Linked DNA regions of Homo sapiens: regions 1, 2, 3, 4, 6 and 7 are each linked to region 5. Evidence: fine-mapped expression QTL. A gene starts in region 5. Each other region holds a variant in brackets. All regions are shown on one strand. Distances are from middle to middle. Region 1 overlaps CNGB1 (cyclic nucleotide gated channel subunit beta 1). Region 2 overlaps CNGB1 (cyclic nucleotide gated channel subunit beta 1). Region 3 overlaps RSPRY1 (ring finger and SPRY domain containing 1). Region 4 overlaps CPNE2 (copine 2). Region 5 holds the start of CPNE2 (copine 2). Region 6 overlaps CPNE2 (copine 2). Region 7 overlaps NLRC5 (NLR family CARD domain containing 5).

Region 1 (4,000 bases), 840 kb before region 5:
GTTCACGCCATTCACCTGTCTCAGCCTCCTGAGTAGCTGGGATTATAGGCACATGCCACCAGGCCTGGGGAATTTTTGTATTTTTAGTAGAGATGGAGTTTCTCCATGTTGGCCAGGCTGGCCTCAAACTCCTAACTTCAGGTCATCCTCCTGCCTCAGCCTCCCAAAGTGCTGGAATTACAGGCGTGAGCTGCTGCGCCCGACCAGGAGTAACATTCTTATTCTAGGTTATACTTTGCCTTGTCTGTACCATCTGAGATCATCTCGTGTCCTCCCCAGTCTCTGGGAGCCCCACACTTGGGAAAATGTTCCCGGGGACACATTGACACAGGGGGCTGATCTAGCTGTGCTAGAGTACATGATGATTCTAGATGCTACAGACAAGGTAATGAGAAGCTGTAGTAAGAACATTACTTCCATTTTATTTTATTTTTTATTATTTTGTGAGACAGGGTCTCGCTCTTTCGCTAAGGCTGGAGTGTAGTAGGCGCGATCTTGACTCATTGCAGGTTCTACCTCCCAGGTTCAACCTATCCTCCAACCTCAGCCTCCCAAGTAGCTGGAACACTGTGACCAGCCGATTTTTGAATTTTTTTGTAGAGGTGGGGTTTTGCTATGTTGCTCAGGCTGCTCTTGAACTTAAGGGATCCTTCCACCTCAGCCTTCCAAAGTGCTGGGATTACAGGCATGAGCAACTGTGCCTGGCCCCCTTTACATTTTTAACAACTTCTCCATTCCTGCTCATCCTCTTCTCCAGAGGATTTAGGGTTCACTCCATTAAACTATAGAGTAAGTGTAAGCAATTTAACAGAGTGCCGGCTTTTCTTATAAAGGCCATTTGAAAAAAACCCCATATCGGCTGGGTGCGGTGGCTCATGCCTGTAATCCCAGCACTTTGGGAGGCCAAGGCCGGCAGATCACCTGAGATCAGGAGTTCAAGACCAGCCTGGACAACATGGTGAAACCCCGTCTCCACTAAAAATACAAAAATTAGCCAGGCGTGGTGGCAGGGGCCTGTAATCCCAGCTACTCAGGAGTCTGAGGCAGGAGAATGGCTTGAACCTGGGAGGCAGAGGTTGCAGTGAGCCGAGATCACACCACTATACTCCAGCCTAGGCGACAGAGCGAGACTCCATCTCAAAAAAAAAAAAAAAAGAAAAGAAAAGAAAGAAAAAGAAACAAAAAGCACATATATAATTATTTCAAAATCTCCCTGCTTCCCGCTTTTGGGGGGTGTATCCCTGCCTGCCTTGCTGGTGCCCACACCTGTGCCCAGCTGCTATTGGGTAGACCCCCCTAGGTGTAGGGGAGAAGGAGGAATACTATCCCAGCCTCTCAGTATCCTCTGAGCTTGGACTTGGGGCAGACCTGTCCCTGCAGTCCCTGAGGTGGGTGATGGAGCCCAAGGTAGGGCCACGTCCAGGCTCCCTGGAGAGGACCTGATTCTCAGAATGTGGGACACAGTACAGGGCCTCTCAGAGGTCCAGAGTCAGGCTAGCTGATGAATTTGGGGGCCCCTGGCATGTACAAGAACAAGGACATAACCAAGCAGTTATCCAAATAGGAAGTAGCACACACTACACAGTCTGTT[A/G]CCCTTGATTGGAGGGACCCTGCAAATGTCTCCATTTGATGCTCTTCAAGAATGTGAGGCCAGCCGGGCCCAGTGGCTCACGCCTGTAATCCCAGCACTTTGGGAGGCCAAGGTAGGTGGATCACCTGAGCTCAGGAGTTCGAGACCAGCCTGGGCAACATGGTGAGACCTCATCTCTACACAAACACAAAAATTAGCCGAGCATGGTGGTGTGCGTCTGTGGTCCCAGCTACTCGGGAGGCTGCCGGGAAGATCACTTGAGTCTGGGAGGCAGAGGTTGCAGGAGGCAGAGGTTGCAGTGAGCTGCAATCGTGCCACTGCACTCCAGCCTGGGTGACAGAGTGAGACCCGCCCCCCCTTCTCAAAAGCAAACAAATAAAATAATTTTTAAAAAGAATGTGAGGACTTGGCTGGGTGCAGTGGCTCACACCTGTAATCCCAGCAACTTTGGGAGGCCGAGGCAGGTGGATCACGAGGTCAGGAGATCGAGACCATCCTGGCTAACACGGTGAAACCCGGTCTCTACTAAAAATACAAAAAATTAGCCGGGCGTGGTGGCAGGTGCCTGTATTCGCAGCTAATTGGGAGGCTGAGGCAGGAGAATGGCATGAACCCTGGGAGGCGGAGCTTGCAATGAGCCGAGACTGTGCCACTGCACTCCAGCCTGGGTGACAGAGCAAGACTCTGTCTCAAAAAAACAAAACAAAACAAAACAAAAACTAGCCGGGCGTGGTGGCGGGAGCCTGTAGTCCCAGCTACTCGGGAGGCTGAGGCAGGAGAATGGCATGAACCCAGGAGAAGGAGCTTGGGGTGAACTGAGATTGCACCACTGCACTCCAGCCTGGGAGACAGAGCGAGACTCCGACTCAAAAAAAAAAAAAAAAAAAAGAATCTTTAAGAATGTGAGTACTTGTGCCTTCTGGCTCCTCCCCACAGGCCTGGGAAGGCATGGTCACCCTAACTTGGGGTGGGGAAACTGAAGCTCAGAGAGGGGAAGCAGCTGACTCAGGCTGTGCTAGGCCAGGCGCCAGGACTCTGGCTCTCCTGTGTCCTCTCTGGGGGCTGCCACTGCCTCAGCTCTTGGAGCTTGCTCAAGTGCAGGGAAACCAAACTGGGCTTTGAGAGCTAGGAGAGCTGGGCTCCAGGCTGTGTAGGGGAGCTCCCGTGGTTTCTGTGGCTTTGTGGCTTCTTTCGTGGCTCCTGGGCTGGTGGCTGTGACCCTCAGAGGACCCCAGGCACCACGTTCCTGTACCCCCTGCATGGAGCTTTTCTGTGTGCCCCATTGGGAAGTGAAGCTATCAGAGTCCCCTCCAAACATGCTTTCTCTGGTTTTCTTCAAGAACACAGCTGGACTCCTGGGACCCAGCTTTTGTCTCTCTCTGACTTTCTCCTCTCCTTCCTCTCCCCCAGTGCCTGCCACGAAACAGCACCCAGAAGTGCAGGTGGAAGATACTGATGCTGATAGCTGCCCCCTCATGGCAGAAGAGAATCCACCCTCAACCGTGTTGCCGCCACCGTCTCCTGCCAAATCAGACACCCTTATAGTCCCAAGCTCAGCCTCGGGGACACACAGGTTACCTTTTATGCTTCTCTTGGGCTTTTCTCGGCACTGTGCCACCTGTTTATTTGGCAGATGAAGAGACTGAGGCCAGAGGGAGAAGCAGCTGGACTAAAATCACACAGCGAGTTGGTGTCAGAAGTGGGACTATGATGCCCCTTCCTCGTTTTCCTAACTCCTGAATTAGGTCTCTTATAAAAGCTCTCATGGGAGGCCCTGTCCCAAATGCCCTCAGCTATAAGTTAGAAGGAGTAATATAATAAATAATATAGTAATAGCGAGGCACGGTGGCTACTGCCTGTAATGCCAGCGCTTTGCGAGGCTGAGGTGGGTGGATCGTTTGAGGCCAGGAGTTTAAGACCAGCCTGGCCAACATAGCGAAACCCCGTCTTTCCTAAAAATACAAAAAAATTAGCTAGGCATAGTGGCTCACTCCTGTAATCCCAGCTACTCGGGAGGCTGAGGCATGACAATTGCTTGAGCCTGGGATGTGGCAGTGAACTGAGATTGTGCCATTGCACTGCAGCCTGGGCAACAGAGCAAGACTCTGTCTCAAAAAATAAAAAAAAAAAACTTTTTAAATTTAAAATAAATAAATAATATAGTAATACATAATAAATGTTACAGAATTAATTTCTACCTCCACATTTTATTTTATTTCATTTTTGATAGGATGCTATTTATTAAAACTTGCATATTATAACTCACCAAGTCTTTTTTAAAAAAAAAACTCTTAAATTTTAAGTGTACAGTACAGTATTGTTACCTATATGCACATTATTTACAGCACATCTCTAGAATTTTTCGTCTTGCATGACTGAAGCTCTATACTCATTGAACAGCAACTCCCT
Region 2 (4,000 bases), 860 kb before region 5:
AAAGTGGGTGGACTGAATAGCCCTGGGCTTGCGGTGTTGGGTTGCAGGAGGAGAGGAATTAGCCAGGGGTCCTGAGCTGGGGGTCCTGGCTCCCAGCTGGCCCACATGTGTCTTTGTTTGGGCCATGGAGTGATTTTAAAAATTAGAATTGATTGCCAACATTTAAAAATCAGGTAGCTTTACATGGAAAAATCTGGCTTCTCTTGAAAACTGGGTGGACTTGGCTGTCATGGGCCCACACTGTGCTTGTGAGGACAGTCTGGGCAGCTGCTGGCACCTGAAGGCAGGTGGCACCTGCCTCTTCATTTGTTTACATCATCACCCTGGCTGGGCAGGCCTTTGGATTTGAGATCCCTGAGGTCTCAAACTGGTGATGAGGTGGGGCAATCCCAGTAGAGGGAATAAAGTGTGGCATACAGGAGAGTGGTGGGACTTCAGCTAATCTGGAGCCCAGCATCCTTAATGCAGAAGATAAAACTAGAGAAGTTGGGGCCTGACTTTAGGAAACTAAGCTGTAGGCAATGGGGAGCCATTGAAGGTGATTGAGCAGGGGAGTGACTTCAGAAAGATTACTCTGAGGCTGAGCAAGCATTGGAGACAGGGAAAGCAATCAAAGCAGGGACACTTCCAAAGCACCTGGGGCCAACTATGAAAAATGTCCTACCCCAGACTTTCTGATTCAAGAGTACCGGGAGCTGGGAATTTGGTTCTGTGTTGTTTTTTTTTTCTTTCTTTCTTTCTTTTTTCTTTGATGACCAAGCAATGGTTATGGAAGAATCTGCTTTATTGAGAAGCACCTGCTTTCTCAGATGATTCTGATGACGGGGTAGAGGCTGGGACCATACTTTGAGAAACATCCAGTGAGAGGTTAGTGCTTTGGGGCCAGGTAGGAGGAGATGTGAGCCTGAGCCAGGGAGAGGCAGAGGAAGGAGGTATCATGACCCAGGCCTGCCAGAAAGGATGGAGGTTTGGAGTTAGGGCTCAGGCTTTGACAGAGACCCAGGGGTCCAGGTGGGGACCTTAGCCTAGAATTCATGTGCCCTGGCTCCTGCCTGCTGATCCTGGAAGCAGGGGCTCCTTCCTACATGAGGCTGTTGACTTTCTTTTTTTTTTTTTTTTTTTAAGATTGAGCCTTGCTCTGTCACCAGGCTGGAGTGCAGTGGTGTGATCTCGGCTCACTGCAACCTCTACCTCCCGGGTTCAAGCAATTCTCCTGCCTCAGCCTCCCTAGTAGCTAGGACTACAAGTGTGCACCACCACGCCCAGCTAATTTTTGTATTTTTAGTAGAGAATGGGTTTCACCATGTTGGCCAGGATGGTCTCGATCTCTTGACCTCATGATCTGCCGACCTCGGCCTCCCAAAGTGCCGGGATTACAGGTGTGAGCTACTGTGTCCGACCGAGGCTGTTGACTTTCACTGGCCAGGGTCAGAACCTCATTTGATGGCCCTGAGGGCAGAGAGGCCACTGACCAGGAGGTGGTGTGCCAGGGTGGAGTGGCAGTTTCTATGGGAACTAGGGCACTCATAGCTCCTGAGCACCTGGGTAGGGCCACGGAGAAGCTGGGCGAGCTATGAATCAGCTGCCTGTAGAGAGGGGCAGTTGGAGCTCCAGGGGTGGGCCAGGGGCTCCTGCACCACGCCTCCTGGGGGCCTGCCCTGGGGGCTGTGTGGCAGCATACCCAATCCCTCCCCTTCCAGGTTGGTGATCTTGGGCACCGTCCTCCTCTCAGTGCTGCAGAATCTTTAGCTGTAAAATGGGAACAGTATAGGACACATCTTGCAGGCCTGCTGCGGAGATGGAAAGAGGAAATGAGGCCGGGCATGGTGGCTCATGCCTGTCATCCCAGCACTTTGGGAGGTCAAGGTGGGTGGATTGCCTGAGGTCAGGAGTTCGAGACCAGCCTGGCCAATACGGTGAAACCCCATCTCTACTAAAAATACAAACATTAACCCGGTGTGGTGGTGCATGCCTGTAATCCCAGCTACTCGGGAAGCTGAGGCACGAGAATTGCTTGAATGGGAGGCGGAGGTTGCAGTGAGCCAAGATCATACCATTGCACTCAAGCCTGGGTGTCACAGTGAGACTCTGTCTCAAAAAAAAAAAAAAAAAAAAAAAAAAAGGAAATGCTTGTAAAACACCCACGCACTAAATAGGACCTAAAAAGAAAATGTTAATGGAAAGGAAAGGAAAGGAAGTGTGGAAGCAAGGACAGCATCAATTCTTAAGGACGGCACCCCATAAGGAGTGGCCACTGATGCCAGTGAGGCGCTCGTGGGGCA[C/T]ATTTATCACCTGGGATAGTGCACTGGGAAAACGGGAGTCAGGGGACCTGGCTCTGCCTCCACCTTCCTGTGTGGCCTGGGACAAGACACTCAGCCTCTCTGAGCTGGCTCTCTTTAAAAGGGGGAAAGTACTGTTCCTGCCCTTTGGGGCTGCTGTGAAAGCTCACGTGCTGTCAGGCAAGATGTTCTGTTCCCTGGATGTCCCCTGCTATGCCCAGGCAGGAACTGGCATCCCAAGGGGCTGCTTAGAGTGGAGACATGGCACTATTGCTGGACAGCAGCATAGACTGACACAGACAAAGCGTCCCACCACCGGATTCAGGGTCACACTTGGAGGAGCCTCCCTGGCCAAACCCCAGGGGCGTTTGCAGGGCCAGAGGAGCCGGGAGCAACCATGGAAACAGCTAGTTCAGGATGCTCTTGGGGCTTCCCTAGAGGGCAGGCAGCACCTCATCTGTGAAACAGGGATAATATCTGTACCTAGAAGTGGGGAGCTCTGTGCCTGGCAATGGAAGCACCCCATAAAAGAAGGTATTTATCTGTGTCTCAGTTTGCTCATCTGTAAAATGGGGAGAAAAACATAAAAGAGGGAAAATAAAATGGGGATGCAAATTATAACCCCAAAATGTTGATGTGAGGACTAATCGAGTTATTCCACGTAAGCCATTCAGCACAGGGCCTGGAACATAGTAAGTGCTCAAAAATGCAGCTGCTGTTACTATTATTGTTGTTATGCAACATCATGAACAATAACAGCCAAAGTCTCAGGATAAGACTTGAGGCCGGCTTCCATTTAAAGTCATTGTTACTACTACCCAGGTATGGTGGTGCATGCCTGTAGTCCCAGTTACTCAGAAGGCTGAGTGAGGTGGGAGGATTGCTTAAGCCCAGGAGGTCGAGGCTGAGGTGAGCCATAATTGCACTAATGCGCTCCAGCCTGAGCAATAGAGCAAGACCCTGTCTCAACAACAAAAAAGTCACTATTACTAATTCATGTTTGGCTGAGGTCCACCAAGATCCCTGGAGCTTTCGGGGGACACCTAGTATTCAGGCATTGTCCTTTGTCCCTGACACCTGCCTGGGGGTAGGCTTAGGTTCCTGATGAGACTGCTCTGCACTCCCTTTGAGCATCTGCCAGGCTTATAGGCCCAGGGTGTTTTTGTTGTCAAGGACCAGGATACTTGAAGAAGTGTTGAAAATTAGACTCCCATCTGAAATTGGGACCACCCCCATGAGAAAGATGAGTTTCCCTGGAGGGCGGAGCCTCTAGACCCAGGAGGGAGGGAAGGACTCTCAGAAGCAAATGCCGAACGTATGGGCGTGCTGTCACCCGGGGGTGGCATCTACAGAGCAGGAAGCGGGCAAGCTCTCTCTGCATCCCCCAGGACAATCCAGTCCACCTGCACCTGGATGTGGCCAGGTGGACCCTGAACCTGGGCCTTTTGGCATCCCTGTGATGCTGTGATTGGAAGCATTGTTTCTGCCTCTGCACAAACCTTTAAGAAGGAATCCCCCGTGAGAAACAAACAGGATCAACCATAATCAAAGCTCTGTCTCAAGAGGAGAAGGGGGGAAAATAATGGAGACAGAGTGAATGAGCACAGGCTTCAACCTATCACCGGAACACCGATCTGGTCCCGCTGAAAATGGAAAGTGCCATTTCCCCACTGCATGACTAAGCACTGAGGCACTGCTGGCGACAGCCAGGGCTCCCTGCA
Region 3 (4,140 bases), 150 kb before region 5:
TTCTACCTACTTGCTTCCTATTTTTCCAGTTACAGGGGCCTTCCATCGGATCCCCAAACCCACTGAGACCCATTCTTCCTCAGTTAGTGCCTTTGCCTAAAATGTTGTGTTCGCCTAGCTACCCAGTCCTAGAAGCTAGTCCTCAGTCTCTGCCAGGCTATGTCCTACTTCCTCCTTTAAGTTTCACTAATGTTACTTCCCCAGTGAGGTTTCTTCTGACACTCCCACCACCATCTAAATTAGGTCCCCCTCATTCTCTCTAGGACCCTATTCTTTTCCACTAAAAATCTGTTACAATAAACACAAATATATTGTCTTCTCCCCACCTTAGGAACAAACTTCAAGGGTAGATTTTTAGAAAGCTGTTAGGCTCCTGCATTCCTTTGCCTCGCAAATTATCTATTAATTCCATCTATTTTTCCCTCTCTCTACTAAATGTACAGACTACCTTTAGTCTCAGCTGGACCACTTCCAAATTACTGTTAGACATAATAATAGACAATAATTAGACAAGCTTATTAGACATAAGCTCTACAAGCATATTTTGTATGCCACATAGGCACAGTGCCCAGCACATATTAGGTGCTCAATAACAATCTGCTGGATGAGTAAGTGGCCTTATTCTTAATTCTAATACTTGATTCTCTCCTACTCCCAAAAGTAGCCCTTAAAGTCTGAGAGTATAATGTCTTGGAACCTTAGCAGTATACACCAATGAAAGTTGTGAAATCTTAGTCAAAAAAGGCAACAGATGTTTTATTCTTCAATGCAAATTACTGTATTCACCACAAGCTAAAGAAGAGAACATGTATCCTACATATATATTTATATATATATATATTTTTTGTGTGTGTGTGTGTGTGTGGATTTATGGAAGACTAAAGACACGGAAAAAAATCCAGCACCCCAACATGTACAGCCAGGAAGGAAATCAGTTCTGTAATAGGACAGGTATAATGAACTACAAACAAGAAGGGGTGGAAAAAGAAGAAAAAAAAATGTGCATTGAGTTTAAGACACTGTAAAACTCAGAAGACATATTTACTATTCAAGTATAAACTCTGTAAGGACTTGGCATAAATTGAAAGGCAGCTGCTGAGGTACACCATTATAAAAGAAGTTCTATGAATTTACAATTCTACCTTCCAATTTCCTGGGAGAAAAAACCAAACTCTTGAAGGTCTTCACCAGAGACCCTGAGAGGGATTAACACTTTTGATGAAGACATAGTCAATAATTCATGATTGAACTATTCAAAAACATGTATTTATTTAGAACAATAGAAATACGTGTTCTCAGACTGTCCTCTAGAGTTTTTGAGACTATTAGTTCAAGAGTTTCAAAGTATATTACTTGTAAAAACAATACTGATTAAAAAAATTTTTTTTAACAAAAAAACAGAAATCTGATTTGATGGTACCTTGAAAATACCCTAAATACCAAATTTTCTCCAACCTAACATTACAGCTAATTTAAGAATTCCTCCTTCATTGGTAAAACATTTTTTCCTCATTAAATGTGGGTACTGAAATTGGATAGAAACACTATGAATGTGAAAATACCACCAATTTTCTGCAGTAAAAAAAAAAAACCCAAAAAACAAAAAAACAAACAAAAAACCTAGAATGTTCTTTGGAATCACTGAAATATCACAAACTTGGGTTTTTTCTTACAGTCTGTGCACCTTCTTTCAGGTTCTCTGTTTTGCTTGTAGTACTGACTGTGTGATTCTAATTTTTATAGATTCAAGTCTTGCAATGCAATATCCATGCTTGACACACCGGTGTCTCTGACCAGTGAGAAGTTATGCATAACCCAGAAACGCTGTCATTTACATCTCCATAAAGACTTCTGCCCCAAATAAAAACTTCAGAATGACACAACACATCCTGTGTTAAACAATCAAATGAACCCAACAAGGGGGATTCCAGTGTGATTTCAGTACTTGGGAGGGCATTGTCTGCTATGGTTTCTCATGGAAGTACCACAGGCCTGGCTGCTAGCATTCAGCTTTCCTTGGCCTTAAAAGGGATTTTCTCAGGGCTGGCAAGTTGGATTAGATTCTAAGAGAATTTTGTCTTTGACAAACTACCATTTTTAGCATAAAATCTGGCCATGGCTATAAGTTTCAATGTGTGTACAACTGATTAGAG[AGT/T]TTTTTTTTTCTTTTTCTTTTCAACATTGGCTGGAATTGAGTAGAAAAAAGTCCACGATGCCTCTTCACATGTGTCATGAAATATGAGAAATCTGTCTGATTCTAGATACTATTTCTTTACGACACAATGGGCAGGTCTCCAGCTGCAAGGCACAATCCATGCACAGGTCACTGGGGAGAAACACAGAAAAGTCAGTCAAGTTAATGCTTCAAAAGGTCAAACTCCAACTGCCTGCCAACTAAATCAAAAATGTTAACAAGTTTGTTCATTGAAAGGGTTACTAATTATACATGGTTTAAAAAAAATGAATATGTAAATAAAAAGTAAATCTTACATTTCTGATCCTCAATTGTCTTAGTCTGTGGAACAAGTAAAAAGTTCATATGCATTCTTTCAGACACTCTATATGTGCACAGCATATACTTACAGATGTGCACTTATAGGTAGGGATATAATATTTCTCCCCAGAAAGCTAGCCATTTATCCCAGAATCATTTACCAAACAGTCCATCTTTCACCACAGTTTTGACACAATGCCTTTGTCATATGGTAAATTTTCATTTTTAGTTAGTTCTATTTCTGGGCTTTTATTGTATTCCATTATTCTGCCATTCTTGTCATATAGTAATGGGACCAAACTATTAACATTTATTTTAATGTATTTTAAGATGTGGTATGGTTGTCATCTCCCTAACTTTCAGAATTTTCTTGCCTTAAACTTTTAAATCAGCATGTCAAGTTCCAGAAAAAAATCATGTTGCTCTTTTTATGTTGAGCAAATTAAACTTAGAGTTTAGAGAAAACTGTCACCTTTACAATACTGAGAGGTCCTCCTATCCAAGAAGAGACTCATTTATTTAAGTCTTCTGTTATACTCTTTGGTAGTTTAAAAGTTTTCTTCATATACGCTCTACATATTTCTTGCTATGTATTCTTAGATAGCACTTTTTTTTTTAACCATGGTAAAAGGGATCTTCAATTATATGTTCTAACTGGCTGCTATTATACATATAGCTAGAAGAGCTACTGATTTTTGTGTATTTTGTAAGTCATAGTGGTGACAGTAGGCATCCTTATCTTATTCCCAACATCTCTTGAAATGCTTCCTATGTGTCACCATTAAAAAGATGCTAGCTGGTGAAACCCCGTCTCTACTAAAAATACAAAAATTAGCTGGGCATGGTGGCGGGCACTGGTAATCCCAGCTACTTGGGAGGCTGAGGCAGGAGAAATCACTTGAGCTCGGGAGGCGGAGGTTGCAGTGAGCTGAGATCACGCCACTGCACTCAAGCCTGGGTGACAGAGCGAGACTCCGTCTCAAAAAATAAATAAATAAATAAAAATAAATAAATAAATAAAAATAAAAAAATAAAGAGATACTAGCATTTGGCTGAAATATATGTGTTTTTTGTATTGTTATGGAAGTATCCATCCATTCCTATTTTATATTGTTTTAGTCCATTCATTTCTGTTTTGTAGTATTTCATCCATTAGGAATGGATATTGAATTTTAACAAATGCTTTCTCAGCATTCTTGAAGTGATAACTGCCCCTCTCCTGCCTCTGGCCTATTTGAGTAATTATATTAAAGATTTCTATATTGTAGGCTGGGCATGGTGACTCATGCCTGTAATCCCAGAACTTTTCGGAGGCCAAGGCAGGTGGATTACTTTAGGTCAGGAGTTCGAGCCAGCCTGGCCAACATGGTGAAACCCCGTCTCTACTAAAAATACAAAAATTAGCTGGGCCTGGTGGCATGCGCCTGTAATCCAAGCTACTCGGGAGGCTGAGGCAGGAGAATTGCATGAACCCAGGAGGCAGAGGCTGCAGTGAGCTGAGATCACACCACTGTACTCCAGCCTGGACGACAGAGCAAGACTCCATCTCAAAAAAACCTGCCTTTGCCTGGGCTGGAGTGCAGTGGCACGATCTCTGCTCACTGCAACCTCCACCTCCCAGGTTTAAGCAATTCTTTGTCTCAGCC
Region 4 (4,130 bases), 24 kb before region 5:
GCCGAGGTAGGCGGATCACAAGGTCAGGAGATCGAGACCATCCTGGCTATCATAGTGAAACCCCGTCTCTACTAAAAGTACAAAAAAAAAAAAAATTAGCTGGGCGTGGTGGCAGGCGCCTGTAGTCCCAGCTACTCGGGAGGCTGAGGCAGGAGAATGGCATGAACTCAGGAGGCGGAGCTTGCAGTGAGCTGAGATGACACCACTGTACTCCAGCCTGGGCAACAGAGCAGGACTCTGTCTCAAAAAAAAAAAAAAAAGAAAGAAAGTATGCTAGACAGTAATAGTGTTAAGGAGACGAGAAGGAGGGGGTGGGAAATTGAAGACCAATTTCAGGGAAGGCCTCGTTGAGGAGGTGATGTGGGAGCAAAGGCTTGATGGAGGTGAGAGGGTGCCGTGAGAAAATTCAAGGAAGAGAGCATCCCAGGCAGAGGGAACAGCAAGTGCAAAGCTCCTGAGGGAGGAGAGTGCCTCGTTTAATTCACGGACAAGGGGCTAGGTTTGGCTGAAGCAGAGTGAGGTGCGGGGAGGAGGGGTGAGGTCGGAGAGTCGGGGCACTGGGGACACATCAGGCAGGGCCCCATTGGGTAAGGACCTTGGAATGTACTTACACTAAGTGAGATGGGGATGCCCCAATGAGCAGGTTTCCAGGTGTGTTTTGAATACCCCTAAGGGATGGAACACTCACTACCTCAGAGGTGAAGGAGTCCTAATCTGGAGTGGCCAGGAGGGCCCCGTGCTGGACCAGTCCCTAGAATGTGATGGAGGTGGTGGCCCGAGGTCCCGGAATGAGGCCACACAGCCCTGGGGCTGGTGGGGGCTACTGTTCCCAATGGGAGCCCTTCCTCTGCCCGCCTTACCTTCTTGTCCAGCCTCCTGCCCGCCAGGCTTAGTGTGATGACGCGGTTGTCGGACAGCTCCTGGGCAGCGATCTGTAAGGCCGGGACATGAGGGGCTCCTCAGACTCCCCCAGCCTCCTGCCAGGCAGGATGGCACAGGGTGCCCCAGGAGCAATCCTCCAGGGCTAGGAGGGGGAAGGGAAGGGCAGTTCCAGGTGACCTTGGACAAATCTCTTGTCTTCCCCACACCTCAGTTTCCATCTTCTGGAAAATGCGGAAAATAACCCATCTGGAGATGAGGAGTCAGGAAGCGGATCTACGCAAATCCGCAGGGCCCATGGGGTGGTGGGCAGAGATGAAGCAAGGACCAGACACCGGGGGTGGTCTTGAGTCCCGGGGAGAGGTTCTGGCCCAGAGAGCAGCATGACCGGCCTTCTCCTGCCCCTGCGGCAGCCACAGAGAGCACAGCTTCCTCAGAACACCAAGGTGTCAGCATCACAGCCACTTCATTGTACAGCTAGGGAAACTGAGGCCCAGGGGAGAAACTGAGTCCCATCAGTTCACATTGGTCATCTGTCCTCCATGCATTCCCCATCAGCTATGGTTCCCTGACCCCAGCCCAGCCAGTGATGGCCTAGCTGGGCGACTTCGAGACTGCTGAGGCCCCCTGTAGGCCTCTCTCCCTCCCCTGCTGCCCACAGCAACACAAGTGGGCTGGGGCCTTTCGCTGGGGCCTCCTCTCCTCTCCTGCCTCTAGGATGGCCTCACCCAGCGCAAGGCATCTGGCCCTCTGGACCCACAGACAGAGGCCAGCCATGTTGCCCGTTCTCCCCTGCCGTCCTCCCACTGGGACTTGCTCAACAACCCTATAGGGTAGGTCCTATTATCACCCCCATTTCCCAGGGGACGGGATGGAGGCCTAGAGTGGAACTGCCAGAAATGCTGGGGTGATGGCATACCCGGGTGAGTGGGGTCTGTCTGAGATGGCTTCTAGGTGGAAGCTGCCTTGTGAAGGCATTCATTCATTCATTCATTCAGAGATGGGGTTTCACTCTCTTGCCCAGGCTGGAGGGCAGTAGCATGATCATAACCCACTGCAGCCTCAAACTCCTGGCCTTAAGGGATCCTCCTGCCTTAGCCTTCCAAGGAGTAGTGCTACAGGTGCAAGCCATGCACCTGGCCTGGGAAGGCATTTAGATGGGCCAGTTAGGAACCAAGAGGTTGGGGGAGGTTGTTTGGGAGGTGGTGATCCGTGGGGGCAGGAACAGAGTAAGAGCCTGAGGTATGTTCAGGATATGCTAAGAATTCAGTTTGCTTTGAACGCAGGGCATTTAAGTGAAGGAGATTAAAAAAACACCAAGGCAGGAGAGCCAGGCAGGGTCTGAGGGGTCCTTCACAGCCTTGAACCGAAGGGTTGGTCAGGCAGTGGGGAGCCATGTGAGGTTCCAGGACAGGGGAGTAACACACGGGAACACACAAAGGCATGGCTTCTCCCTCCAGCCTGGCCGGCTTCCCAGGCATC[G/A]CGTGGGCTCAGAAGCCAGCCAGACAACCAGGGGACGATCTCGCTAGCTCAGCTGCCCCAGGGAACTTCCTCTCTGGGTCTCAGGGGTGGCCCTGGCTTCTGGGAGTCTTTGAAGACCAAGGAGCTCATCCGGGCGAAGGGCCTGTGCATCTCCAGCGGAATTACTGCGCATCGCGGGAGTCGTTGCGCATTGCAGGAATCATTGCGCGTCGCAGCCACAAGCAGGGCACTGATGGGCAGGGCACTTCTGAACGACCCCCAGGGGAGGGCAGGCAGGGGCCAGTGCAGGGAGGGGGCTGCTGGCAGGGCTCTGGAGGCCTCCCCAGCTTGTCAGCCCCCACTGCATCATTTGTGGAGCCAGCAGCCGGTTGCTAAGAGACCTGTTGCTAAGTTGTAAGTTGGGCCTTTTTACTCCAAACAAAGCTGGTGATTATCTGCCAGGGAAGCGGCCCATTGATGGGGGAGGGTGTGGGGTGGGGATGGAGGGGGTGCGGAGAGCCGGGAGGGGACTGGTACCGTAATCAAGCCCTTCCCCGCAGGCTTGTCATTCAGCAGCAGCAGAGGCCTAGTGATCTTCTTGCTGGAGACGATCTAGGGGAGAGAGGAGAAAGGGCGCTCAGTGAGGAAGCGGGGGAAGCCCGGGAAGGAAAAATCCTCCACCGGCACCGGAAAAATCCTCTTGGCAGGGCTGCACCCCGCCCTGGCTGGCTGGTGACCCGCCTGAGCATCATCATCACCCTGGGAGGTGGACAGCAGCCAATCTGGGCAGTGAGGAGCCTGAGGCCCAGAGAGGGTAAGAGACCCGCCTGAGGTCTCCCGCTGCAGTTGGACTCCCACTGCCTGGTTTGCCCCTAGGAAAAGGCATTTTGGAGACAACTGTGGGAGGTTAGCCCCCTAACTCCCTCCTCCAGAGGCATTCCACAGACCCCACCTGCCTCAGGATATGATCTCTGATGGACAGAGTCAAGCTCAGATTCTATGTATTTTCCTTTTGAGACAGGTCTCGATCACGGCTCACTGCAGCCTCAACCTCCTGGGCTCAAGCGATCCTCCCACCTCAGCCTCCTGGGTAGCTGGGACTACAGGCATGCATCACCACGCCTGGCTTTTTTTTTTTTTTTTTTTTTTTTTTGGTAGAGACAAGGGCTCATTATGTTGCTCAGGCTGGTCTCGAACTCCAGGCTCAAGCGATCTTCCCGCCTTGGCCTCCCAAAGTGCTGGGATTACAGGCATGAGCTATAGAGCCCGGCCAATTCTTTCTATTTTTATTGGTTTCAATAGGTAATACACTTACACAGGGTGCAATAATCAAAACAACATAGAGAGGAAAAGTGGGCCACATTGCAAAGTCACCCTCCCACCTGTGTCTGCCCACTGCACTCAGGGGCCAGCATGGTTCGTGCTTCCTGGGTGCAGTGCGAGCGTCGTCCTGTGCAGCGGGGAGCACACATCAGTATGATCTAGTCCTGCTCCTGTGGGGCTAGTTCTTCTCCGCAGATCCACACACCTGCTCTGTGCCCTGGGGACTGTGCCACCTGGCTCTTTTGCCCTCTGGCTTTCAGAGGTTCAGCCAGTTGGGGGGATGGGCAGGAGACGGGAGAGCAGGTGGCGTGAGAGGTGGGGGCCCCCGTTTGATGGGAGCTTCTCCATTACTCTGTCTTCTGCCTCAGTTGCAGTCCAGAGGCCTCCCTCTATGGGCCACAGGTCTTACCAGGCCCTGGCAATGCCACTTCCTCACCCTGCCTTCCTTCCAGGTGAAGGTGGTCAGC
Region 5 (4,000 bases):
ATCATGTCACAGTTTGCCTCATTTTACAGACAGAAAACCCCCCAAGTCCAAGGGGTGACAAGGCACGCAGACAGGAAGTGACGGCCGCAAAACGAACCCAAGCGTCCACATCCTTCGTCCCTGGTTCTTTCCATGGAGAAACCTGCCTGGGTGACCCCTTCCAATCCAGCTGGCTGGGGCGGTCCTGGAGCTCACCTGGACCTATGCCAGGCGGAATGCCATAAAACCACGCCTTCATGCTGTGTCCATTCTCCAGGAGGCAGGCCCCGGAACATCAGCCCATTTCACAGATGGTGACCCAGAGGGCCACAGGGGGGGAGGGTCTGGGCCAAGTTCCCTGTTGGTCATAGGTGGGGTTCAGACCCAGGTCTCCCAGGCCTCCCCATCAGGGCAGGCTGCAGCTGCCAGGGATTACAATCTGCGCACACCGCCTGTTTCCTGAAAACCATGGGCTCCCTGCAGTCCGTGAAGCTGTGGATGCCCAAGGGGCAGAAAAAGCCCCCCAACCTTTGATGACAGCACACACCTCTAAGGGAGCAAAAAACTAAGGCAGACAAAAAAAAGGGCGTTTTGTCTGGAAGATCATTCTTCCAGACCCCTTGTCCCTTCCCCCAGTACATATGGGGCAGGGGATTCAGATGCAAGATGAACACCCTATTAGCTACCAGAGCCAGCAGCATCTGTGACCTTGGGCAAATCACAGCCCCCTTTGAAGCAGCCCCTTCCCCATAGGAGAGCTTCTTGAACTCGGGGGGACGTGGAGCGAGGCTGGGGGATGGGGTGGGAAGAGCAGGGAAGAGGGTGTAAGACCCCTCTATTTTCAGAGGAGCATCGCTGTGAGAAACGGGGAATAAGAGAGGGCCTTGTTCGCCCGCTCTCTCCATGCCCACCCCCACACCCCCTTTAAACACACAGGTGCCAGACAGCTTTTTCGCAAAAACTAGTTTGCAAACACACTCCGACTTCTGGGAAGCTGCCCAGCTCCACTCCCCCTCTGCGCTCCCAGTACCGGGGCTGGGAGCCGGCCCTCCGGCAGTTGCCTGGGGCAGGGGGTGGGTGTTGAGGGGTGGGAGGAGGGCAGAGGGGAGCGGAGAGGAGCCAGCGCCCGCCGAGAGCCAGGGCGACCTCACGCCTTCAGCAGCTGCGGCAGCGGCGGGTCTCCACCTCCCGTACGCCCTCCAAGCCCCTCGGGGCGGGTGGAAGGGTCCCCAAAGCAGCTGGGCTCGGACCCCCGAGGGCGCCCCCCTCCCCAGGGACCCCGCCCGCCCTTCCCCGCAGTCCGGGAGCCGGCGGGGCGCCCCCGCGTGGCCGGGTCGGAGCTGAGTCACCGAAGCGCCGGAGTCCGGGTTCGCGCTGGCGGCGGGGGCTAGAGCGCCGCAGCCCCCCGAGGCGGAACCCGGGTTCCTTCGGACCCGCAGCTGGATCAAAGAGCCCAGCCCCAAGGCCGAAGTTGGGCACTCACGCCAAGCTGCCCCGCCTGCCCGGGCCCCACTCACCGCAGGTCCCGCGGGCGCCACCGCCCTCACCGCACGGCTGCCGCTGCCCGCGCTCCGAGCCGCCCGGGCATCCCCGGGAGCTGCTCCTGCTCGGCCGGGCCCGCGGGCGCGGGACAGGCTCAGGGCGCTGCCCGCGCGGCCACGGCCCGCTCGCGTGCGCTCCCAGCCGCTCGGGGTCCGGTCCTCCTCCCGGGCCGGGCGGGCGGGCGGCGGCGGCGGCGGCGGCTCGGGCTCCTCCCTCCGGCCGAGGAGGGGAGTGGGGAGGGAAGTGGGAGGCGAGGCGGGAGCTTCCTGGAGGGGCGCGCGCTCTCCCACGGGAGGAGCGGGGGCGCTGTCCCGCCCGCAGTCCGCCGCTCCCAGCCCGCGCCCGGCGCGCCGCGGCACTCGGGGCGCCTGGCACCGAGGGGGCCCGAACGTTCGGGCCGAACGCGAGGGTCCGAAGGTTCCAGGCTGGGACTCAGGTGGCTGAGGATCGGAACAACGCGGCTTCGCGCCCTCCCCAGGCCTGCTTTGCCCGAGCCTCTGGCACCTCCGAGTTCCGAGCGCCGTGCGCTCAGGGCCACCGACGCGGGAACAGAGGGGTGGCCTCAGCCCGGGCCTGCGGGGCCCCAGGGCCGCTTGGACCCCCAGCGCCGATGGGAGCGGCGCTGCGCCCTCGGGGCAACACCCAAGGCTGGGTTCTGGGTTGTATTGGGCAGGATTAGGGCCGCAGTGTTTTCTTCCCTTTTTTTTTTCAATAGCAAAAGAGCTCGGCATTTTCTTGCCGCCAGAGATTGGAAATATGACATATTTCTCTGACACAGACGATAAGATAAAGACGGATCCGAACTGGGCCTGGGTCTACTCATCCGTGCGGAAAATTAGGCGAGTCTTTAAGGCCTTGGAGCCCAGGCCTCCTTTTCCCTAGAAGAGGCACCAATTCTTAGGACACTTGTCTGTCGCTGGGCGCTCAAGCCTTTGGCCACTCCGCGGTATTTAGGTGCTCTCTGGGCAAGTTCACCACCGGGCATCAGAAGGCTGAGCCTCACGTAACCAGATTCTGGGGGGCGGGGCTTTCCCGGGGATCTCAAGGCCATGTCCACAGCCCTTGGCCCTGGGGCTCAAGGACTGGGCAGCTGAGGGTTAATGCCGAGTGCTTCCATTGTGGCTTTTCGATTCCAGGCAGGTGAGGGTTAATGTGGGAGCCTCGCGCGCTGCAGCCTGTGAGCCTCCCTCCACGTCTGAGTCACTGGCACTTTGCAGCCTTACAGGGGCCGAGACTAAACAGCCCCCGGGGCTCTGAGCTTTGTTCTCTGCCTGCCTGTCACCCATCCATCTTTCCTTTCTCCAAGCTCTCTTCACCTTTCTTCCACCGAAGCCAATCAAAGCCCTCTGCCCCGCTCTGGGGCAAACCAACCTATCAACCCAACTCCAGCCCCGCTTCCTCCAGGAAGACTTTCCTGATTGCTCTGGCCTCAGAATCTGTCTCTTGTCTTTCCAGCAGCAGGAGAGCCAGGCACTGGGATGGACAGTGGTGAACCAAAGCAGATAGTCTCTCTCAAGTTGCTCACCTGTGGGGGCCAAGATCAGGACCCAGGCCATCATATCACCATATGAAATGTGCAAAGATTGGAGGTAGGGTGGCACAGAAGACCCAACTCAGCCATGGGAGTCAGCGAGGCTTCCTTTAAGAAACCTGAAGGATGAGATAGTTGGGCCTGTCAAGGAAGATACTAGATCCCTAGCCAAGGAGGCAGAGTACAAAGGCCAGGGGTCACAGCAATTCCACTCCTAGATATCTACCCGGGAGAAATGAAAACATATGGCCACACAAAACATACACAAATGTACGTAGCAGCATTATTCATAATAGCCAAAAAGTGGAAACCACGCAAATGTTCATCCACTGATGAATGGAAAAACAAAATGTGGTATATCCACACAACATAGAATATTATACAGCCATAGAAAGGTACGAATTACTGGCCAGTTGTGGTGGCTCACACCTGTAATCCCAGCACTTTGGGAGGCCAAGGCGGGCGATTACTTGAGGTCGGGAATTCAAGACCAGCTTGGCCAACATGGCAAAACTCTGTCTCTACTAAAAATATAACAATTAGCCAGGCGTAGTGGCAAGAACCTGTAATCCCAGCAATTCGGAAGGCAGGAAGGAGAATCACTTGAGCCCAAGAGGCGGAAGTTGCAGCCAAGATTGCGCCACTGTACTCCAGCCTGGGTGACAGAGGGAGATTCCATCCCCCCTCCAAAAAAAAAAAGAAAGGAAAAAAAGAAAGGTGGGAAGTACTGATACATGCTACAGTATGGACAAACTTGGAAAATATTATGCCCAGTGAAAGAAGCCAGTCTCAGACAAATATTACATGGCTCCATTTAGATGAAATGTCCAGAATAGACAAATCCACAAACAGACAAAGCAGATTTGTGGTTGCCTCGGCCGGGGAGTGGAGAATGGGGAGTGATTGCTATTGGCAAAGGGTTTCTTTGGGAGATGATAAAAAATGTTC
Region 6 (4,000 bases), 40 kb before region 5:
TGCACCCATCACATCCGGCTGCTGCTGCTCGCATGGCTTCGGGGTATAGAAGGACTCATAACTGGCCCCGTTCAGGGCTGTGGGTGAGACTGCAGTGCCTGCAGAACCCAAGGCCTCGGGAGACGCTGCAGAGCTCAGATGGGGGACAGTCCCTCCTTTCTTCCCTCTCTTGCAGCCCCACAGCCCCAAATCCCCCTCAGCCCCCTTCCTACCATGTACCACATCCGCATTCACTGCTGTGCAGGAATCCCCTTACTCCTTCCTCACAACACCCCAATGGAAGGGCAGCTGTTATCACCTCATCTTATGGATGACAAAACTGAGACACAGAGTGGACTAGAATTTTCCCACATTTCCTGGCGGGCAGAGCTGGGACTCGAACTGAGGTCAGGCTGCTCCCAGAGCTCACGCTAACCTCCAAAGGCATTCCTCCCCCAGGGATTTTCAATGAGGAGGGTGGAGGGGTGCCCCGGTCCTCAGCTGCAGGAGGAGGGCTTTTGTCTGGGCACAGACAATCCCAGACAGACTCTTCAGCTCCAAGACATGACGATGGGGGTACTGGGAGGCTCTCCTGCATCCAGCGTCCCCATTTTACAAATAAACAAACCGAGGCCCAGAAAAGGGAAGCCAGGCACCAGAGCCACACAGTCGAACAGGCCTGAGACCCAGTGCCCTCCCCTCCCCTGGGGGTGGGAGTTGGTCTTACTCCTGGGGGAGAGGGCAGGGACCCAGCAGTGGGGTTCAGTCTGGCCTCCCTGGCAGCCCAGGGGAGGGGAGGTGGTGGGAGGACTCCTCCCCGTTTCAGGCAATGGGGTTTTCTGTTCTTTGCTGTCTGCTTTAGGCGCCCGGCACAGAGCCAGTCCCCTGGTGTCCCTCTTGGGTCCTGTCCCTGTCCAGGGCCCACTTCACCCTGTCCCCAGTCTGGGCTCCAGGTTTGGGGGCTGGAGGTCCCTGTTGCCATGGAGACTTCCTGAGCCTCTATAGAGATTACGAGGGGGGCTTGTATGGAGGGGCTGAGAGAGAAAATGGTTGCCAGGGAAACAGGACTCCCTTGGGCCAAAGTCTTCCTGAAAAATCAGATTTTAGGAGATTTTAGAGACCACAGTGGGAAAGCCCCCTGCTGATAGGGGTGGAGGAATATTTTGCCTTCTCGGGCCCCCCGCTCTTCATCCCCACTCTTCCCCCCTCTTTATTTGGGGAGGGCCCAGCCTTGCGGTCAGGGGGGCTGTGGAAGGTTGTCCATCTGCCCCAGAGGCCCCAGAGGTTGTCTCCTCCAGCAACTCCATTTCATAGCTGGAAAGAGTGAGGTTCCCAGAGGGCCAGGGAGTGCCCAGGTCACACAGTGGGGCCTGGGGACAAGTGTCCATGCTACCAGGAGTGGCAGCTCAGCCCCTCCCATACTGGTTGCCCTGGTTTGCCTGAGAAAAGTCATAAACAGAACAAGTTCCTGGAGGCCACAGAAGCTGATGAGGGGCCCCTGGGGACTGGCTGCCAGCCACAGGCCTTTGTCCTGGGACTCCCTATTGCCTTCTGACAGCCAATGGCCCTGTTCACCCAACCTGGCCTGGCTCAGCCTTGAGGTCAGGGAGTTACTTCAGGCTCAGTTCCCTGTGGCCCTGGCTGAGGCAGGTGGTAGAGGCAGCGGGTGGGGCATGGAGAAAGCCCAAGGGATCTCAGAGTGACTGTCCTCTCTGAGCCTCAGTTTCCCCACCTGCAGAGTATGCTCCCCCTCCTCCCAGACCTTTGCACAGACTGTGCCTTCTGCCCAGATCCCGTTCCTCATCTGAGTAACTCTGCTCACGTTGAAGGGCCAAGACCTCATGCCATCTCCAAAGGGAAACGCGTCCTGAGACCCTCAGCCACTCTCTGGGGCAGGAGTTCTCTCTGGGATCATCTGGGCCACCCTCAGGGAGAAACTGAGGTCTCAAAGGCAGGCAGCCTGGTCACGTGCTCCTTCTGGTTCCTTCTAGCTTCCCACCCTCAGAGAACCGACCCCTCTGTTTGCTCAGGCCTGGGGTCCCAAATTTGGGCTGGGTCCCAAATTCATTC[C/T]GTCAACAAACAATGGCACTGCACACTGCAGGCCAGGTGCTGGGATGCAGGCAGAAAGAAACCCAGTGCCTTCCCCAGGCAATCACAAACAAGTCACAGAGTTCCATGAGGGCAGGGCTCTGGGCAGGAAGAAGGGCCCCCATGTGAGTGTGAGCATGGCTCCCAGAGGGCAGGCCACTCCCCGAAATTCTAGGTGAAAATCGGTGGCAGAAGCCCAGGAGAGGGAGCAGCGGGCTGAGTGAAGGCCATGTGCAAAGGCCCTGAGGTGGGAGTGAATGAAGGAGCTTCAGGCAGCAGGAGTGAGGCGAGTCAGAATGCGAGAGAGGGTGAGGGGCCAGGAGGGGCCAGGCCTGGCGGCTCCCATGGCAGGGGGAGGTGGGACACAGCATCTGTCCTTTCCTAGCCTGGACGCAGCATCTTTCTTGGCACCGCCGGGCACTCCAGCCTGGCCAAGCCCTGGCCTCCCCAGCATCGCCCTGTGACATTTACAAGGAGGCTTTTGCTCAAGAAAACATCTCATTCAGTTCTTTGAAAGCTGGCTGGTGTCCTAGCAACGGGCTCGTGCTGGGCCCAGCCGCACCAGCTCGCCCTGCCCCCCGAATGGCATCACTGTGGCCCAGCTTTGGTCCCATCTGAGGCGTAGCCTCACACCACAGGGAGCCAGGACACCCACATCTCCTGCCCTGGCCCTTGGGCCACTCCCCGAAATTCTAGGTGAAAATCATCCTCCCCAGAGAGGACCAGAGAGGACAGGAGGCAAAAATTCACTCTGGAAACAGCAATGCGGCACAGCAGGGCAGACAAGAAGGGGCACTGGCCGAGCGAGACCCATGTGCAGGCTTAGGAGCTCTCTGGCCTCACACCCCACAGGCTTCTCATGGGGAGGCAACAGTGTCTGAGAAGAAACTTTAGAGTCCAACTGCCCAGTTGGTGAACATGGCCTTGGGCAAGTCATTTTGAGGCTCCAAGCCTCAGTTTATTGCCCTGTAAAATGGGACAGCATTCCCTGCCCATCTGCAGCGACTCCCCAGCATCACAGCTTCTGCCCTCATTGACGTCTCCATCTCTGAGCCACCAAACCACCCCTCCCCTGGTGCCCGTGGTTCTATGAGGAGCCCCCGCCTCCTGCCCCAGGACTACCCACAACCACACCTCAGGGACCCCCGCTTCAATTCACCTCCACGCCTCTCCTGGCTCCTCCTCAGCCTTTAGACCTGCTTGACCTAACCCTTCCCCTCCCTCACAGCCAGTTGACTTCCACGCTGGCTGACTGCCACACTGGCTGATGTCTCCATGCCCTTCTCCCCTCCCCATCTTGTCTCTGCCATAATGGCCCCAGCCATGGTCAGTGAAACGGATGGTCTCTTCTCAGCCTTACCTCACCAGGCCCAGGGGCAGCCTCCAACCCCACTCCCTCCTCCCCGAGCCCTGACTGCTTGGCTTCCTCAACGATCAAAATGGGTTCATAACAGGGCCTACCTCATTGGCTTTGGTGAGAATTAGTTGAAACTGGTAAAGCAGGCAGAGTGGTATCTAGAACATTCTAAGGGCCCAATAAATGCTGCTACTTATGGGTTTGCTTTCTGCCCCTCCCTCCTTCACTTCCTCCCTGCTCTGCCCCCGGGCTCAGTCTCCGCTTCATCTGCCTGGCTCTCTCATGCAGCTGTCTCTTTTTTTATTTTAATTAATTAATTAATTAATTTTTTAGAGACAGAGTCTCACTCTGTCACCCAGGCTGGAGTGCAGTGCACTCATAGCTCACTGGGCTCCAGGGATCTTCCTGCCTCAGCCTCCCGAGTAGCTGGGATTACAGACTCCCGCCACCACACCTAGCTAATTTTTGTATTTTTAGTAGAGACGGGGTTTCACCATGTTGGCCAGGCTGGTCTCGAACTCCTCACCTTGTGATCCACCCTCCTCAGCCTCCCAAAGTGCTAAGATTATAAGTGTG
Region 7 (4,143 bases), 67 kb after region 5:
TACATTATTTAACCTACTGTATTTGGGGAGGAGGTTTCTCTGTTACTGCAGCCTAGCCTTTTCTCTAGCTAATATGCACACTGAGCCTTTGCTCTGTGCTAGGCACTGTGCTACAAAATGTTTTTCATGCACCATCCCATCTCATTCTTGCAATGACCATATGAGTTGGCTATTGTTACAGATTCGTTTTAGGAACGAAGAAACTCTGGCCTAGACAGTGTGCATGTGTGTGCTCCATATACTTGCCCAAAGTCCACCAGCCTCTATAGACAGCCTGGATCTGTGGTTTCAGCCCATGATTGACAGAGAGACTGAGAGTCCAGAAACCACAGACAAGAGGAGGATCCATTTGGACTCCAGAGGTCCTGTCAAGGTATGGAGCTTCCTCTCTTGCATTGCAGGCCATTATGTTCTGATATTCAAGATTCTTATCCAGTCCTCTTGGCAGAGGTTTGCTAGACTGGTTGGCCTCTGCTCCCCCAAAAGCCCAATCCCCTCCCCGGTCCTCCTCCACTCTTACTCACCTGAGATTCTCTATCTGCCCACAGCCTACCAGAGCCTCAGGGCAGTGGGGCTCCAGGGGACAGCCATCAAAATCCAGGTGGATGGGGGCCTCCCTGTGCTCTAGGATGTTGGTCAGGGTGGCCAGGTCGGTGCAGGTCAGTGGGAAATTGTGGAAGGGCAGTTGATAGGGGAGGCTTTGTGCGGTGAGACTGGCCAGCTCAGGCTCCTGTGTCTCATCCACACAGTGACACAGCTCTACAACCTTTGGCCCTGTGAGCTTGCGGGTGGCCAACTTCTTCAACACCTGCACTACAGCAGCCTGCTTGGCACCCACACAGTCCTCATTGCCCTGCGCCAGGTGGCTAAGGAAGGGGCGGCAGGTGCAGGATGCCAGGCCCGCCAGGAAGGTGGGGAGGTGGTCTGAGAGGCCCAGTCTAGCTTTGGTCCGCTGTACCCAGCGGGAATGGAGGGTAACATACTGGGTAAGTGTGTCTTTGTTCACCTTGGGGCTGGCCATCAGGTGCAGGGCAGCAAGAAACTCCTGCAGGCTGAGGTGGGTGAAAGCATAGCCTGTCTGCTGGTGCCCAGGGCCTGTGCAGACGCAGAAGGAAGTCAGCAGGCTGTGAGTGGCCCCAAAAGCTATCAAGGGTGGAGCAATATCTTTTGCATAGAAGATAACCTTCCCTGTCTCCAGGCCCCTCAGGGCCACCTCCCCCAGGTCCAGTAGGGACGAGGTGGGCAAGTGCCCAGGGGGGCTGAGGGCGAGCACCATCTGCATATAGAGCTGAGTCATGTTGGGCAGGAGGGCCACAGACTGGCCTGGGGCGTGGTCAGGAAGCAGATGGTGGAGGCAGAGACAGGCGACTTGGCACAGTGCGGGCACCGCACACAGGCTTCGGAGACGTCCATTTGTCTGTAACTCCACCAGGGCCCCCTCCCGCGATGGCTGGGCGCTGAAGAAGTGATTCACATATTCTTCCACCCGTGGCCCATCAAAGCCCAACATGTGGACCATGGCTGCCTCTGCAGGCAGGCAGGCAGGCAGCTTCCCTGGACGGGAGGTAGCCATCACCCGGCAGCCAGGCAGGAGGGTCCCATTGCAGAGATGGGAGAAAAGGGTGAGGACTGGGCCTGGGCCATCAGGACCCATAGGCTGGAGGGCCTCATCTAGCCCATCAAAGATCAGCAGGACTTGGTCAGCGTTCTTCTCCAGGTACTGGAAGACAGTGTCGTGGTCCGATTCAGGGCTCAGGTACAGATCAAAAAGGAGCTCGGACGGTGTCAGGAACCTCGTGATCAAGTTGAGCTGGCGGAATTCAAAAAGGAACAGGGCCTGGAAACAGTTCAGATGGCCCTCTGCCCACTTCTGGCAGAGCCGGTGGGCCAGCGTGGTCTTGCCCATGCCAGCCTTCCCCAAAAGCACGGTCACCCTCGGGCCCTTGTTAACCCTGGTGTTGAAGAGGTCCGAGATGCTCACGTCAGCACCATCTTCCACCTTGACGTCCCCCATAATGGCCCCCTCCGGAGTGTCTAAGGATGCTGTGGCCCGGCGCAGGATTGGAGGGACATAGACCTGGTGGAAGGCGTGGGGCTGCCCTGACCCAGGGATTTGGCTCCTGTAGCGCTGCTGGGCAGAGGTCCGCAGGAGCTGCAGGTACTTCTTGGCCAACTCTGCAAGGGGCAGGGACATGGCATGAGGAGAGGACCCCCCGGCCCTCTGCTCATGTCTTCTTGCCCCAGTATTGGGCTGTTGGGAGCCTGTAGCCCCAGATGTGTATGTATGATGGGGTGAGGGTGGGGGTGTCAAGAGCACCATAGGGGGATCTGTGCCACCCCAACTTCCAGAAGGAATCAGTTCTAAGGGAGCATAGGCTCTCCGGTAGCTATTTAAACAGGCAGGTGGGAATGGGGAAGTGTGGGTCACGGTTCTATCCATTCTGCAATAGTACACGTGGTGTAAGGGTTCAGTAAGATGG[G/A]GGGAGGGGAATAGGGCACCTCCTTTGCAACATCTCTTTTTTTTCTTTTTTCCCAGAGACAGAGTCTCAGTCTTGCCCAGGCTCCAGTGCAGTGGCACGATCCTAGCTTACTGTAGCCGCAAACTCCTGGTCTCAAGTGATCCTCCTGCCTCAGCCTCCTGAGTAGCTGGGACTACAGGTGCACACCACCACACCCAGCTAATTTTTGTATTTTTAGTAGAGACAAGGTTTTGTCACGTTGGCCAGGCTAGTATTGAATTCCTGGGCTCAACTGATCCACCTGCCTCAGCCCTCCAAAGTGCTGGGATTACAGGTGTGAGCCACCGCGCCCAGCTACTTTGCAATATCTTATTGAAACAACCTCTTTCTGTAATATCTGGATCCCCAGTGCCTCTTCCCAATATTTCAGTTCTGCAATGCCCAGGGGTGAGCACTAACAACCTGTAGGCCTAGGCATTACCGATCGGAACTGTGGGAGCTGGGCCCCTACAGTGCCAGATGTTAACCTTTTAATTCCTGGGTCATTGAGAGGTCTCAGGTGACCCAGGGAAAGGGCTGGGGCTGCTTTTGGGGGAACCCTATGGGGAAAGGCCAAGGTAGTGAACTATTTTGAGCGGATGTGAATCCTCTGGTTATAGCCATGGTTGGCAGCAGTGGGGGCAGAGAAGGCTCTAGTTAGTGGGACAACTCGTGGAGAACGAGGACCATTCTGAGAACTGGTCAAGAATGAGAGAAGTCCCCTTTCTTCTCTCACTGGCCTGGCCTGCCCTAAGCAGCTCCATGTCTCCCCATGGGCCCCCAGGGCCTCTGTCTTGAAGGTTTCTCCCAGGCCTCCTCACCCCTCCCCATCCCTGCTCACCCCCAAACTGGTCTCCTCCCTGGGTCTCCTTCAACACTGAGGACATAGGGTGTCCCTGGAAAAGCCTGGACAGCGAAGCTGAGACCTGTATGGTGCTTCCAGCTCCTTCAGCGGAGCCCTCTTCAGAGAAGTCCCCATGCAGCCAGATGGGTGGGGAGCCCCTTCGCTGCCAGCCCAGGCCTCTCCTCTGCCTGTGCAAGACCTCCAGTCCTTTTCTCCTGGAAACTTGCGAGACAAGAGTCACTGGGCCTCTGGAGGCTTATTGGCAGGGGACAAGGTCCAGGGTCCGGGTCTTGGCCCCCAGGCAACCCCATCTCTCTGTTTATGTTCCTCCCCACACTGGTACCCACCTAGCTGCTGCTTCTTGCACTGCTTCCGGCGGGGTGAGGACCCACAGCTCTGATGTGGGCGCTTCAGGCCTGAAAAAGCAAAGGAAGGGGTGGAGGAGTGGGGTCTGGGGATCTGGGCTGAGGGGTTACCCAGAACCTTTGGGGAACTCCAGTCCACAGACAGGTGGCAGGCAGCCAAGTACACCCACATGCAGGGACTGGAAAGGCAGGCAGCAGGCAGAGGCTGGGTCAACACCAGCTTCTATTTGCAGAGTGGACTTCTAGGCACCCCCATTGGAAGGTGGATGTTCTGGGCCTGGCAGTCTTGCAGTCCAGGATGCAGGAAGCAGGGCCAACAGCCAGCAGCCCCCAGAAACACTCAGCTCCAAGCACTAAATGGCCATCTGTCCATCAGGGAAGGACCAAGCTCTATGGAAGCCGCCGGTGGTCATATAAGTGAAGTTCCCAGTGAGTT

Evidence for each region. PIP is the estimated chance that this variant, and not a neighbour inherited with it, causes the effect.
Region 1: its variant is fine-mapped to the expression of CPNE2 in naive CD4 T cells (Schmiedel 2018, PIP 0.95).
Region 2: its variant is fine-mapped to the expression of CPNE2 in naive CD4 T cells (Schmiedel 2018, PIP 0.95).
Region 3: its variant is fine-mapped to the expression of CPNE2 in whole blood (INTERVAL, PIP above 0.99).
Region 4: its variant is fine-mapped to the expression of CPNE2 in nucleus accumbens (GTEx, PIP 0.98). The same link has a PIP of 0.9 or more in caudate.
Region 6: its variant is fine-mapped to the expression of CPNE2 in whole blood (INTERVAL, PIP above 0.99).
Region 7: its variant is fine-mapped to the expression of CPNE2 in whole blood (INTERVAL, PIP above 0.99).

Annotation. Positions count from the first base shown.
Region 1 is chr16:57,930,880-57,934,879 of GRCh38, reverse strand. CNGB1 (cyclic nucleotide gated channel subunit beta 1) reads left to right here. Exons shown (of 33, transcript NM_001297.5): 17 at 3,002-3,164. Among named protein-coding and RNA genes, the nearest start is that of CNGB1, 38 kb to the left of the region's middle. The variant A/G (reference allele first, on the strand shown) is at 1,592.
Region 2 is chr16:57,950,616-57,954,615 of GRCh38, reverse strand. All of the region lies in intron 12 of CNGB1 (cyclic nucleotide gated channel subunit beta 1), which reads left to right. Among named protein-coding and RNA genes, the nearest start is that of CNGB1, 19 kb to the left of the region's middle. The variant C/T (reference allele first, on the strand shown) is at 2,283.
Region 3 is chr16:57,237,065-57,241,204 of GRCh38, reverse strand. RSPRY1 (ring finger and SPRY domain containing 1) reads right to left here. Exons shown (of 15, transcript NM_133368.3): 15 at 736-2,326. The coding sequence ends at 2,230. Among named protein-coding and RNA genes, the nearest start is that of ARL2BP, 6.1 kb to the left of the region's middle. The variant AGT/T (reference allele first, on the strand shown) is at 2,154.
Region 4 is chr16:57,114,298-57,118,427 of GRCh38, reverse strand. CPNE2 (copine 2) reads right to left here. Exons shown (of 16, transcript NM_152727.6): 4 at 2,878-2,952; 5 at 861-932. Among named protein-coding and RNA genes, the nearest start is that of CPNE2, 24 kb to the right of the region's middle. The variant G/A (reference allele first, on the strand shown) is at 2,362.
Region 5 is chr16:57,090,287-57,094,286 of GRCh38, reverse strand. CPNE2 (copine 2) reads right to left here and starts at 1,704. Exons shown (of 16, transcript NM_152727.6): 1 at 1,497-1,704. RefSeq lists silencers at 1,213-1,622, 1,683-1,732, 1,843-2,092, 2,113-2,182.
Region 6 is chr16:57,130,116-57,134,115 of GRCh38, reverse strand. All of the region lies in intron 12 of CPNE2 (copine 2), which reads right to left. Among named protein-coding and RNA genes, the nearest start is that of CPNE2, 40 kb to the right of the region's middle. The variant C/T (reference allele first, on the strand shown) is at 2,050.
Region 7 is chr16:57,023,400-57,027,542 of GRCh38, reverse strand. NLRC5 (NLR family CARD domain containing 5) reads right to left here. Exons shown (of 49, transcript NM_001384950.1): 5 at 3,690-3,758; 6 at 525-2,175. Among named protein-coding and RNA genes, the nearest start is that of NLRC5, 36 kb to the right of the region's middle. RefSeq lists an enhancer at 574-1,092. The variant G/A (reference allele first, on the strand shown) is at 2,481.